Linked DNA regions of Homo sapiens: region 1 is linked to region 2. The links come from fine-mapping of genetic effects on gene expression. Tissue or cell type: monocytes. Region 2 holds a variant in brackets; the other region holds the start of a gene. All regions are shown on one strand. Distances are between the middles of the regions.

Region 1 (2,755 bases), 140 kb before region 2:
TAAGGAATTCAGAATGTTCTCTGGCAAAGTGCCTCAGAAAGCTTCTAGAACAGGAAGTGGCCTGCCTGAGGGGTATTCTAGAGCCATTCACCTGTAGGCCTGCGCATATGGATGCAAGTGTAGAGAGGACCCCAGCAGAGAACCGGTAGGAGGCCGCTCACGCCATCCAGTGCCAGATAGCGAGAACCAGAAAGGCGGCAGTGGGCTTGAAAGGACATGGCACCTGGAAAGGCATTAAAAATGAAGAACTAATGGGACTGGCTACCGGGAGTGGAGGAGCGAGGCCCAAAATTGACTGCTAATCTGAATCTGGGCGACTGGTGGATAGAGGTGTCCCAGACAAGGGGCTGAGAAACTGGGAATGGGAGCATTTGACTGGGCGGGGGGCGGGGGGGTGGCGAGGGGTGGAATACAAGATGGGTTTGCCTAGAGAGGTGCCACGTCCTAACAGTTCAATCACAAACAATACTGGCACCTGAATTCATGGCCATTTAACTCTGTTCTTTGCTCCCAGCCCTGGGGGCGGAGCTGGGGAGTTAAAGCATCCCCTCTCTGGACAAGAATGCCTTTTCAGGCTGTTCCTAAAGCGCCTCCGAAAATCATCCTGAAACCGTAATTTTGAGGGCAGGGAAGCTGAGGACACCAAGCATTCTATTTAGGAATAATCTTTGTGACTGTTGGAATTGAGTTTCCACACCTAGATATTCAGAGGGCACGGGAACTTATGTCCGGAGCCTCCTCTCCGGAAGAGGGCGGCGAGGATGGGGGTCCAGGCGCCCCTTGGCCCCTTTCCCGTTTCGGACTCTCCGGGGTCACCAGACGGCCGTTCTTTCCGCTTGGGCCCGGGTCTGGGGGAACTGCTCCTAGCGCCCCGGGGCCCGCTCTCCGCCGGAGCAGCCTGGCCTCTCTCCCCCGGCTCCGTCAGCGCCGCTCTCCGCCTCCGGCCCTCCCGGCAGGGCTGCTCGAAGCTGCTCCGGGAGCTTCCCCGGTGCGGCCCGGAGGAACCTCGCAGGACCCCGGGAGACGCCGCCGCCGCTGCCCGGCGGGCTCAGGGACCGGTTCCCAGGCCCCCACACCCCCTCTCGGGGATCCCCTGTCGCCGACTCCCTCCCGGACCCGCAGGACACTCCCCTCCGGAGGCCGGGCCTGGTCCGCCCGCCCGCCGCCCCCGTCCCGCCCCGCGCGCCGCGCCGGGAGCCCCGAGCCCGACCCCTCCCCCGGACGCCCGGCCCGCTCGCGGGACGGAGGCGGCGATGGTGACTGGGCAGCGGCGCGGGGCCGGGGCCTGGGCAGGGCGGCTCGGCCGCCTCTTTCTCTCGCTGCCCCCGCCCCTCCTCCTCCTCCCTCTCCCCGAGTGCTAGCCCGGGCGGCCGCCGAGCTTGGCGCTCTCTCGCCTCGCTGCCTCCTCCCCCGCGCCGCGGACCCTCTCCCCTCCCTTGCGTTGCCCCCCTCTCCCGCCGCCTCCTCCCGCTCTCCTCTCGCTCTCCTCCCGCCTCCTTCTTCCAGGCGCGGCCAGCGGGGGCAAGAGCGAGGTGGCTGCGAGGAGGCGTCACTGAAAGCCCTGACTTGGGGAAGGCTGCGGGCTCGGAGCCGGAGACGCCGAGCTGGGGCCGGGTGAGTGGCAGGCGTCGGGCCCGCGCGCGCTGCGGGAGGGGAGAGCCGGTGGGCCCGGCCAGGTGGGCGCCCCGCGCGGGCGCATGGGGAGCCGTTGCGGCCGGCCGAGCCCTGGCTGCTTGAGCCGCGGCTGGCGCGGGAACTTCGCTTCGGCGCCCTGGGAGACCGCGCCGAGCGGTCGGAGGTGCTGCGGGATGGGCGTTGGGTGCTGGGAATGGGAAGGGAACAGCTGCTTCTCAGCGCCGCCGGCGGCCGCAGAAGTGGAAAAAAGTTGTGCCGGGAACAGCGTCTCCTCGGGAAGCCGGCGCGAGCCCTGCTCTCTGGGCGTCGCTGGCGGGCTTCGGACGGCGGCGCGTGGGTCCCAGGCGCAGCTGGGCGCCGGGTTCCAGCGCGCCTGGCACCGCTCCCTGGGGGCCGCCCCGTGGTCGCCCCTGCTGTCCCTGGTCCGTGGCGTGTGGGTCACTCTGGCCACAGACGTCAGCTGCTTCTCAAATCTGGACTGCATTTTTGTGGGCAGCTCAGTGATTTGGGGTGCGGGCTGGAAGAGGTGGGCGTGGAGTGGGGAAGACCGCATCTGGGATGGGCGGCTTGAGCCCACGGGCTGGGCAAAGGACTGGGGAGACTCTGCGTGTGTTTCTGGATGTTTTTAGGCACACAGTTTTTTTTTTTCTTTTCCCTTCCATTCAGCGGCCCAGTGTTCTTCGAACTTAGAAAAGCAAAGGATTTTCTTCAATCCCGTTCGACTTTTCTGTTATTTCAGGATGGTCATGAGTTCCATGAAAGTCCATGTGCTTGTTTCAATGGGAGCAACACCAGAGTAAAGACAAAGTCCTATCCCCACCCCCGTCCTCGCCTCCACCCGGGCCATTTCCTGTATGTCCCATTTTCTCTGTTGTGATTGTGCGAGTGTGTTTGTGCATGTAGGTTACCATCGGTGGGTGACCTACGTGGAAAGGAGAACTCTTTGAAATTGCAACGCGGCCGCTATGGAAAGTGTGTGCTGGAGCCGAGGGAGGAAAGATTCCGGCGAGCCAGAGCTGTTAGAGGCTCACCCCAGAGAGGTAAACCGGAGTAACTGAGCTTGAAGGGACATTTATAACCTGCACATTGCTTTTGCCTTACCCCTTGGCCAGAGAGCTCC
Region 2 (2,720 bases):
GGTCAGTGCTGGAGCTGGCTTTGGAACCCATACCTGATGGACTCCCTTCCCTTACCCAGTGCTTGGCACAGCGCTGTGACACACGCACACACACCCTGACAATTAAGTGCATATGTTCCTAGTAGTGCACTAGCTGTGTCCCCAAAATAGCATCTTGTATAGCAACTACCATGATATGAGGATTTTAAAATACATCATGTTTCAAGGGATGGGTAGAGTCACATGCTCACTAGGAAGTCAGCCAGCAGGCAGACAGCTGGTGCAGGGTGTAGAAACGGGCATTTTAAGCTTTGACACTGGGCTTCCTTATTTCTCCGCTTCTCTTCCTCTTCGATAACTCCCTGCCTCACCCCACTCCCAACATGCCAGGGGGCTCTTTGCAGTTCTCATGGAGTTGATTTGACCTCGGTTAATGAGATCTAATCATTCAGAGCAGGGCCATGTGCCCAGATGTGAGCTATGTGATTGTTCCTGGCCTTGGAATGGGGCAGAAAATGGGGCTGCAAACCAGCCCTGCTGGCCCCCATTTCAGGGTCCAGACTCCTCTGAAGAAGGCTTGAGCCACTGGAGCAATGTCTTCTGGTAATGAAGTCATTCCTCCGTGGAGACAGAATGAGGCCTCTGTGAAATGAGAAACAATGGGCATGTTGAGTTCCCGACCTGGGGTGAATCGAAGCTTAGGCAGAGGCACATGGGATGAATTGGGACAATTCAAGGGATGCATTCTTCATAGACAAGGTTCTGTTGTCAACAAGTCCACTCAGTTGTAATGATGCTTAGTTAACGGTCATTAATGTCTTTTAAAAATAATTTCCCCAAGTAAGTCATGAACTCTTAAGGTTTTTTTTTTTTCCCCTCTGAGTTTTAATTAGTGTAAATTATTTTGTCTAAAAATCACCCTGTGAAAAATGGATAAAGTATAGGTATGGGAGCAATGTTTTGTTTATTCTTTTACATGTGATTCTTTCCTATTTACCTATGAAGCAAACACACTTATGTCTCTGCTAGTAATTTAATTTCGAGGAAATAAAAGCGGGGTGTTGCTACTCTCTACTGTTAAGCAAAAGCGCTTGGTCCAAGTTTCTCAAAACTTAGCTCACCTAGTACCAAAACAGCAGGCAAAAAGTCTTGCAAACTTAAAAACAAAACAAAACATCCACTAATAGAGTTGATTGCCAGTCTTGCCTCCTCCTCTCTGGATCCCTGTGCTGTTTGACTTTTTCCAGTAAAAGATGAGGGAGCGGGAGCCCTGTCCTAAAAGTGCAGCAGCAACCAGGACAGTGCCCCCTGGGTTGGGAGCAGGACCTGGCACTGGCCGCCTCCTTCCATGGTGCTCCCTAGAGATAAGGTTAACTGCCACATAGAGTTCTAAGTGCAGTGAGGTCAGGAAGAACTTGAAACAAACGCAGCCAGTGCAACAACCGCCTGGCATGCTAGCCAGGCCCGGG[G/C]CTTGCTGGCAGGGTTCTGCGGGCACGGGCCGGACTTGGACGGTGTCGCTGCGCGGCGGGAAGGCGGGGCGGGGCCTGGCGGCGCTGCTAACCGCCCTCCCTCTCCCCTAGGTGAGGCCGCAGGCGGTGCTCTGGGTCCGGGAGCGCTGTCCCCAGCATGAACGCGGCCGGCGGCGGGAGTGAATGACTGCAGCTGCGACTTCCTTCCCGGGCCGCCCGAGCCTCCTTCCCCACCGACTTTCTTGTTTTGATTAACTCCGTGGACTCCTGACTCTTTCTTCGCCCGGAACATCAATATGTGTCATGTCATTGTCACCTGTCGCTCGATGCTCTGGACCTTGCTGAGTATTGTGGTGGCTTTTGCCGAGCTCATTGCCTTCATGAGTGCAGACTGGCTGATCGGGAAAGCGAGGAGCCGCGGCGGCGTGGAGCCGGCGGGCCCGGGCGGGGGCTCCCCGGAGCCCTACCACCCCACCCTGGGCATCTACGCCCGCTGCATCCGGAACCCAGGGGTGCAGCACTTCCAGCGGGACACGCTGTGCGGGCCCTACGCCGAGAGCTTCGGCGAGATCGCCAGCGGCTTCTGGCAGGCCACAGCTATTTTCCTGGCTGTGGGAATCTTTATTCTCTGCATGGTGGCCTTGGTGTCCGTCTTCACCATGTGTGTACAGAGCATCATGAAGAAAAGCATCTTCAATGTCTGTGGGCTGTTGCAAGGAATTGCAGGTAAGAAGGCAGGACCCCGGGCACGGTGGGATGGAGGGATGGAGAGCTGCCGGTGCAGCGCACTCTGGTACTGGGCATTCGCTTCCTGCTAGTTTTGGAGAAGACCACTTTCTGTCTATTCAGGTTTCCTTTGCCCCTTCCGTTCTAGGCGACGTTTGTGTGCTGCTCGCATGGGTCTCTTTCCCCTGTCTTACCCCACAGGAAGACAGGCTTGTTCTCTGGTCTTACGTGGTCCTCCTCATTGCTTATTTCCTCGGGGTCTAAGCTGTTGGTTTTAGTTTGAGTAACTACTCCTGCTTTTTGTTTTTCCCATTAAATTAAAAGCATGCTCTCCACTTCAGTGCAACTCCCTGAGGAATTATGGAGAGCGTGAGTCCCACCTGCAGCAAGCACTTTATGCTAAGAGGAATGTAAGCGGGGGCGCTCATTAAGAAGCAGCAAGCCTGCTTTCCGCATCCACTCTCAGCTCCAGCCCCCAGATGATTTCAGCTTGGGTGGGAAAGACACGGGCTGGGAAGGAATTAGTATCAGCTGCTCTGTGTTTAG

What was found. PIP is the estimated chance that this variant, and not a neighbour inherited with it, causes the effect.
Region 1: LHFPL2 starts here. The variant in region 2 is fine-mapped to the expression of LHFPL2 in monocytes (TOPMed, PIP above 0.99).

What each region holds. Positions count from the first base shown.
Region 1 is chr5:78,647,358-78,650,112 of GRCh38, reverse strand. It overlaps LHFPL2 (LHFPL tetraspan subfamily member 2), which reads left to right and starts at 1,341. Exons shown (of 5, transcript NM_005779.3): 1 at 1,341-1,614. RefSeq lists silencers at 803-1,742, 2,033-2,092.
Region 2 is chr5:78,509,238-78,511,957 of GRCh38, reverse strand. LHFPL2 (LHFPL tetraspan subfamily member 2) reads left to right here. Exons shown (of 5, transcript NM_005779.3): 4 at 1,560-2,174. The coding sequence starts at 1,745. Among named protein-coding and RNA genes, the nearest start is that of LHFPL2, 140 kb to the left of the region's middle. RefSeq lists silencers at 1,557-1,606, 1,887-1,976 and an enhancer at 1,219-1,840. The variant G/C (reference allele first, on the strand shown) is at 1,449.